Linked DNA regions of Homo sapiens. The protein of the gene in region 1 purifies or fractionates together with the protein of each later gene. This does not show direct contact. Each region holds a gene or a part of one and is shown in the gene's direction. Other genes may lie near its edges.

The links. Proteins that work in one complex are often made in the same cells at the same time.
Region 2: the proteins of UPP2 (region 1) and CCZ1 purify together in Homo sapiens (affinity purification with mass spectrometry, with the first as the bait; one large-scale study listed by BioGRID). This does not show direct contact.

Annotation. Positions count from the first base shown.
Region 1 is NC_000002.12:158,108,376-158,111,875, forward strand, and holds part of UPP2 (uridine phosphorylase 2), read left to right. Parts: intron 1-3,500. UniProt on the Homo sapiens protein: Catalyzes the reversible phosphorylytic cleavage of uridine to uracil and ribose-1-phosphate which can then be utilized as carbon and energy sources or in the rescue of pyrimidine bases for nucleotide synthesis.
Region 2 is NC_000007.14:5,908,733-5,912,232, forward strand, and holds part of CCZ1 (vacuolar fusion protein CCZ1 homolog), read left to right. Parts: intron 1-1,302; coding exon 1,303-1,384; intron 1,385-3,128; coding exon 3,129-3,190; intron 3,191-3,500. UniProt on the Homo sapiens protein: Acts in concert with MON1A, as a guanine exchange factor (GEF) for RAB7, promotes the exchange of GDP to GTP, converting it from an inactive GDP-bound form into an active GTP-bound form.

The DNA of each region.
Region 1 (3,500 bases):
TGAGATTAAACCTTAGGTTTCTCCGATAAAAAAATAATGGCTCTTTCTCTGTTCAAACAAAACAAAATAACACAAAAACAAAAACAAAAAAACAAAAGCACTATGTTTTAGTACTTTTTAGTACTCCAAGTATTAGTTTCTGGGAAATTATTGGGATGGAAAGCTTTGTTTTAGAGATAAAAATAAGGGGACTCACATGTATGTATCTCTCTCACACACGCACACACACAGACACACACACACATACGCACACACACATAGTTGTCTCATCTCGGTTATAATCCCAGGAAACAGACCTTCACGTCTGCCTGTCCAGATTTTGTTCAGCACTTATTCTCACACACTGTCTGTCATAACCACTATCCAACCTTATACATTCACCACCCACCTGGTTGTGAACCTTCAGTAAATTATCTTTTGGATAAAAAGACATGCTCTGTTTCAAACATGTTTTATCCCATCAAACAGCAACTCTACTGATTGAGCCATTTTGATGAATAGGAGGCAAAAGCGTGTGTGTGTGTGTGTGTGTGTGTGTGTGTGTGTGTGTGTGTGTGTTTGTAAATTGAGGAGCAGGTAACCTAGCTCCAAATGTTCAGAACTGGCCATTTAATCTGAAGTAGAATTTTTTCAAGGCAGCGTGTAAAGTCTGATTTATTCTCATAGATGGTTTCCTCAGAAACTTGCCTTCCTCCAGCCATGTTCTCCTCTTTGAATGAGAACATTCTACATTCAATTTCTTGAGTTCCTTAAATCCCAGGGCAGCAGTCCTGGCTAAGAAAAGAGGACATAATCCATCAGTACCTGAAAACTCAGGCTTGTCTTCACAGAGATGATAATCATTATTAATACCATTATCTTCCAAGAAAGGAGAACTCTGGGTGTATAAAGCTGAAACTTCAGACTCCAGCAATCACTCCTATTTCCTTCATATTCTTACCATATTTAAAAATTTTTGCTACTTGCTACTGCAAAATCTCAGTAGCTTAATACAATTTAAGTTTACTTCTCACTCACATTAGGTACAAGGTGGGAGTTCTTAGTTGATGGATGGTTTCCCTACATCTGGTGATTCGAGGACCCAGGCTCCTTCCATAATTGTTACTGTTTCCTTCAAGGCATAAATTGCTGTTTCCCAGTGTGTCAACACCTGTCCAGCAGATGACAGCGACAATATGTAGGGTCACCAATACATCCTCCTTGTAGGATGGGAGATTTCTATGGGCTAGGACTGGAAATGGTACCCATTACTTCTGCTCAAATTCTAGTCACTGGAACCCAGACAAATGACCTTGTCTAACTGGAAAGGAGGCTGAGATGTTAAGTTTAGCTGGGTGCCCAGAAAGAAGAGCAAACTGTTTAGGTGAACAGCTAATCAATCTCTGCCATACTCACTAGAAAGATTCAGACAATTAATACATACGGTGGAAGATCCTTAGAAGTTATCTATTCAAATTTAATGGACATTTATAAAATTCTCCACTCAAACAAAGCAGGATATACATTTCCGGGGAAGGCAGGAAATAGTTTGAACTGAGGAAAAATGAAAATACAACATATTATATCTACAGAATGTGGGTAGAGTGCTGAGAGGAAATTTATAGAATTAAAGGCTAATGTTGGAAAAGAAGAAATATTTTTTATTATACTTTAAGTTCTAGGGTACATGTGCACAACCTGCAGGTTTGTTACATATGTATACATGTGCCATGTTGGTGTGCTGCACCCATTAACTCGTCATTTACATTATGTATATCTCCTAATGCAATCCCTCCCCACTGCCCCCACCCCATGACAGGCCCGAGTGTGTGATGTTCCCCTTCCTGTGTCCAAGTGTTCTCATTGTTCAATTTCCACCTATGAGTGAGAACATGCGGTGTTTAGTTTTTTGTCCTTGTGATAGTTTGCTGAGAATGATGGTTTCCAGCTTCATCCCTGTCCCTTACAAAGGACATGAACTCATCCTTTTTATGGCTGCATAGTATTCCATGGTGTATTTGCTTAATCCAGTCTGTCATTGATGAACATTTGGGTTGGTTCCAGGTCTTTGCTATTGTGAGTAGTGCCGCAGTGAACATACATGTACATGTGTCTTTATAACAGCATGATTTATAATCCTTTGAGTATATAGCCAGTAATGGGATGGCTGGGTCAAATGATATTTCTAGTTCTAGATCCTTGAGGACTAGTTCTAGATCCTTGAGGACTCGCCACACTGTCTTCCACAATGGTTGAACTAGTTTACAGTCCCACCAACAGTGTAAAAGTGTTCCTATTTCTCCACATCCTCTCCAGCATCTGTTGTTTCCTGACTTTTTAATGATTGCCATTCTAACTGGTGTGAGATGGTATCTCATTGTGGTTTTGATTTGCATTTCTCTGATGGCCAGTGATGATGAGCATTTTTTCATGTGTTTTTTGGCTGCATAAATGTCTTCTTTTGAGAAGTGTCTGTTCATATCCTTCGCCCACTTGATGGGGTTGTTTTTTTCTTGTAAATTTGCTGGAGTTCTTTGCAGATTCTGGATATTAGCCCTTTGTCAGATAAGTAGATTGCAAAAATTTTCTCCCATTCTGAGGTTGCCTGTTCACTCTGATGGTAGTTTCTTTTGCTGTGCAGAAGCTCTTTAGTTTAATTAGATCGCATTTGTCAATTTTGGCTTTTGTTGCCATTGCTTTTAGTGTTTTAGACATGAAGTCCTTGCCCATGCCTATGTCCTAAATGGTATTGCCTAGGTTTTCTTCTAGGGTTTTTATGGTTTTAGGTCTAACATTTAAGTCTTGCCGATTCCCTTTCCATAAGTTCTATGCATTACTGAGAGAGGTGAAGTCTCAAACTATGCTTGTGAGTTTATTAATACTTTATTTCTGACAGTTTTTGCTTTATTTTTTAAGCTCTGTTTTTAGTTTTTATACACTTTGAATGTTATGTCTTCTTGGTAAACTGACTCTTATGGTTATGGAATATCCCTCTGTCTCTGGTAATTTTCTTTGCTCTGAAGCCTATTTTGATATTAATATAGTCATTCCAGCATTAGATTAAAGCTTGCATGGTCTATATTTTTCCATTCTTTTACTTTTAATCTGCCTGTATCATTATCATTATAGACAGCATATAATTGGATCATATGTTTGTTTATTCATTCTGAAAATCTCTGTGTCTTAAATGGGTGCTTAGACACTTTGCATTTAATGTAATTATTGATATGTTTGGATTTAGGTTTACCATTTTATATTTGATTTCTGTGTATTAAGCTCTGCTTTCCATTTCTTTATTCCTCTTTCCAGCTTTCTTTTGGGATAGTTGAACATTTTTTAAATATTCCATTTTTATTTATCTGTTATATTTTGACTATATCTCTTTGTTTTGTTTCAGTTTTGTTTCTCTGCTTATTTGTTTTAGTGGTTGCTCTAAGGATTACAGTAAACATATTTAATGTTTAAAAATCTACTTTTAATCAATGTTGTACGACTTGAAGTGGGACATATAGACCTTACAG
Region 2 (3,500 bases), on another chromosome or scaffold:
TTGTCTGTCTCCTTTTAAAAAACCGGTTCCAGAGTCTGATACCTGCTAGTTTCTCTGTGCTTTTTCCATGTGCTGCTCCTTCCTGCCTCATTTCAGATCAGGTGGTTTGCCTGAAAGCTTGTTTTTCTCCTCCTCCTCTTTCTTCACCGAAGATCCGGAGAATTAAAATCCATGTACATTTCTGAGACCTAGGATCACGTTCCCTGTCTACAGCATACCCATATTTTCCCAGGGGACTAGGGGAGAGAATGTGGCATTACCATATAACCCAGGAAGCTAAGAGACATCTGCTCCTAAAATGAAACAGTGTGGCTTTGGAGGTTTCCTGCATAATCCTACACGGAATTCAACCAGCGAGTCCAATCCCTTGTGACTTTTTTTTTTTTTTTATCTCAAATGGCATGTAAAATACAGGACTGTAGGAGTAGCCTTTTGCAGGTCAGGATAAAGTTCCAGTGCCTGGACTCAAGTTTAACCCTTTACCTTCCTTAACTTCGCAGTCAGGTGGTGAGCCTCTTGATATAATGTTAAAGAGAAAAGCACCAGTAGTCCCAGCTACTCAGGAGGCTGAGGTGGGAGGTTCGCTTGAGCCTGGGAATCGGTGGCTGCAGCAAGCTGTGGTCACACCACTGTAATCCAGCCTGGGCGACAGACGAGACTCATCTCTTGAAAAATGAAAAAAGATGAGGCCAGGCACAGTGGCTCACATATGTAATCCCAGCACTTTAGGAGGCTGAGGCGGGAGCACTGCTTGAGTCCAGCAGTTCGAAACCAGCCTGGCAACGTAGCAAGACCCCCATCTCTACATAAAATACAAAAATTAGCTGATGGTGGCGCATGCCTGTAGTCCCAGCTAGTCTGGAGGCTGAGATGGGAGGACCGCTTGAGCCCTGGAGGCCAAGGCTGCAGTGAGCCATGATCGCACCACTGCTTCCAGCCTGGGTGACAGAGCAAGACCTTGTCTCAAAAAAAAAAAGAAAAAAAAATTTTTTTTAATAAAAAATGAGTTTTATCCAGGGCTTCAAATTCTTTGGAAAAGTTTGACAAAGTATACCACGTAAATTCAGATTTACCTCAATGCTAAGAATTATGTTTAGGAAAAAGGAAACTCATTTTGATCTCAGGTACAAAAATAGATTGCTTTGAGTTTTAAGTAGCTTTAGACTTTAAAAAGTTAGAATTTATTCTGTGTTACTAAAAATGACTTGAAAAAAAAATTTTTGTTTAATGAGCTTTATCACAGCAGTGGAAAGACAGAAGACAGTTCCAAACGTTTAACCCAGTGCTTTTCTGTTGTTGCAGGAGTGGATTAGAACAAGATGACATGAGAATTTTATACAAATACCTTACCACCTCCCTTTTTCCAAGGCACATCGAACCTGAGGTATGATGGGTACCATAGCTGCGCACAATTACATGCAGGGGCACAGAGAGGGCAGGTGGAGTGAGATGGTGGTGCATGGGGGCGTTTCTGATCGTTTCTGATGTATGTTTTGTCTTACTGTGATATTTGTGTCACTGTATATCAATTAGCACAGAAAACCACATGCAGCTCTCCTCCAGTATGTGACATTCAGATGTGATACAGAAAGCATCGTTTTGTGTGTCTGTGTGTTGGTTTTTTTGTGTGTGTTTTTGTTTGTTTGGTTTTTGAGACGGAGTCTCGAACTTTCGCCTGGGATGGAGAGGTTCAAGCAATTCTCCTTGCCTCGGCCTCCCAAGTACCTGGGATTACAGGTGCCTGCCACCACGCCCAGCTAATTTTTTTGTATTTTTAGTAGAGACAGGTTTCACTATGTTGGCCAGGCTGGTCTCGAACTCCTGACCTTGTGATCTGCCCACCTTGGCCTCCCAAAGTGCTGGGATTACAGGCGTGAGCCACCGCCCCCAGTCCACAAGCATGTTTTTAAGAGGAGTGAGTCATTGAGTAGAGGAAAATTGGATTTTACTTTACTTTTAATTTATGTATTTTATTTTATTTATTTATTTATTTATTTATTTATTTATTTATTTATTTATTGGGACAGAGTTTTGTTCTTTTCGCCCAGGCTGGAGTGCAGTAGTGCAATCTCAGCTCACTGCAACTTCCGCTTCCTGGATTCAAACAATTCTCCGGCCTCAGGCTCCCGAGTAGCTGAGATTATAGGCACCTGCCACCATGCCCGGCTAATTTTTATATTTTTAGTAGAGACGGAGTTTCACCATGTTGGCCAGGCTGGTCTCGAACTCCTGACCTCAGGTGATTGACCCGCCACAGCCTTCCAAAGTGCTGGGATTACAGGCGTGAGCTACTGCTCCTGGCCAAAAAATTGGATTTTAGATCGGGTTCTAGGAACCTTTAAAATGCCAGTGATCTTTAAAACAATCGACTTGTGTAGTCTTTTCCTCTATCAACAGGAGACCTAATTTTCAGTAGATGTTTTAGTGCCTACCCGGCTTTCCACTCTAGTACTTAATTTCCCGGTTTCCTGCAGAGAACTTTTAAATGATATCACTGTGTTCTCCCCAAAGTATTTTCAGAGCTTAACATACAAAAATCATTTTGGCTCAGTTGAACTCACTCTCTTCGCTTGTTCGTTCCCTCCCTCTTGTCCTCCTGCTTTCCAAGTTTTTTTTTAAGAGACGAGGTCTCACTTTGTTGACTCGCATGGTCTCAAACTCCTGGGCTCAAGCGGTCGTGTCACCTCAGCCTCCCAAGTAGCTGAGACTACAGGTGTGTGCCACCACACCTGGCTAATTTTTTGTAGAGATGGGATCTCGTCATGTTGCCCAGGCTATTCTCAAACTCCTGGGCTCAAGTAATCTGCCTGCCTTGGCCTCCCAAAGTGCTGGGATTATAGGCATGAGCCACCTCACCTGGCCAAAAATTTAAAAACTAGCCAGGTTTGGTCACACATGCCTCTATCAGGAGGCTGAGGTGGGAGGATTGCTTGAGCCTAGGAGTTCAAGGCTGCAGTGAGCCATGATCATGCTGCACGCATTCCAGCCTGGGCAACAGAACAAGATCCTGTCTCTAAAAGAAAAAGACAAATGGCATGGAACCAATTAGTAGATAATGCTGTTTTTCAAAGCTTGGAAAATAAATAAAAAGTCTGATAAGTCATTCTCAACATTAAATGTATTTGCAGTTAGCAGGAAGGGATTCTCCAATAAGAGCAGAAATGCCAGGAAATCTTCAACACTATGGAAGGTAGGACTTCTGTTCTTTGATTTATGATACTGGGTTTTCTTTCTTTTTTGACTCAGAGTCTGGCTCTGTTACCCAGGCTGGAGAGCAGTGGCAAGATCTCCGCTCACTGCAACCTCCGCCTCCCCGGGCTCAAGTGACTGTCATGCCTCAGCCTCCCAAGTAGCTGGAACTACAGGCATGAGCCACTATGCCTGGGTAATTCATTTTGTATTTTTAGTAGAAACAGGGTTTCATCATGTTGGCCAGGCTGGTCTTGAACTCCTGACTTCAAGTGATCCACCTGCCTTGGCCTCCCAAAGTGCTGGGATTA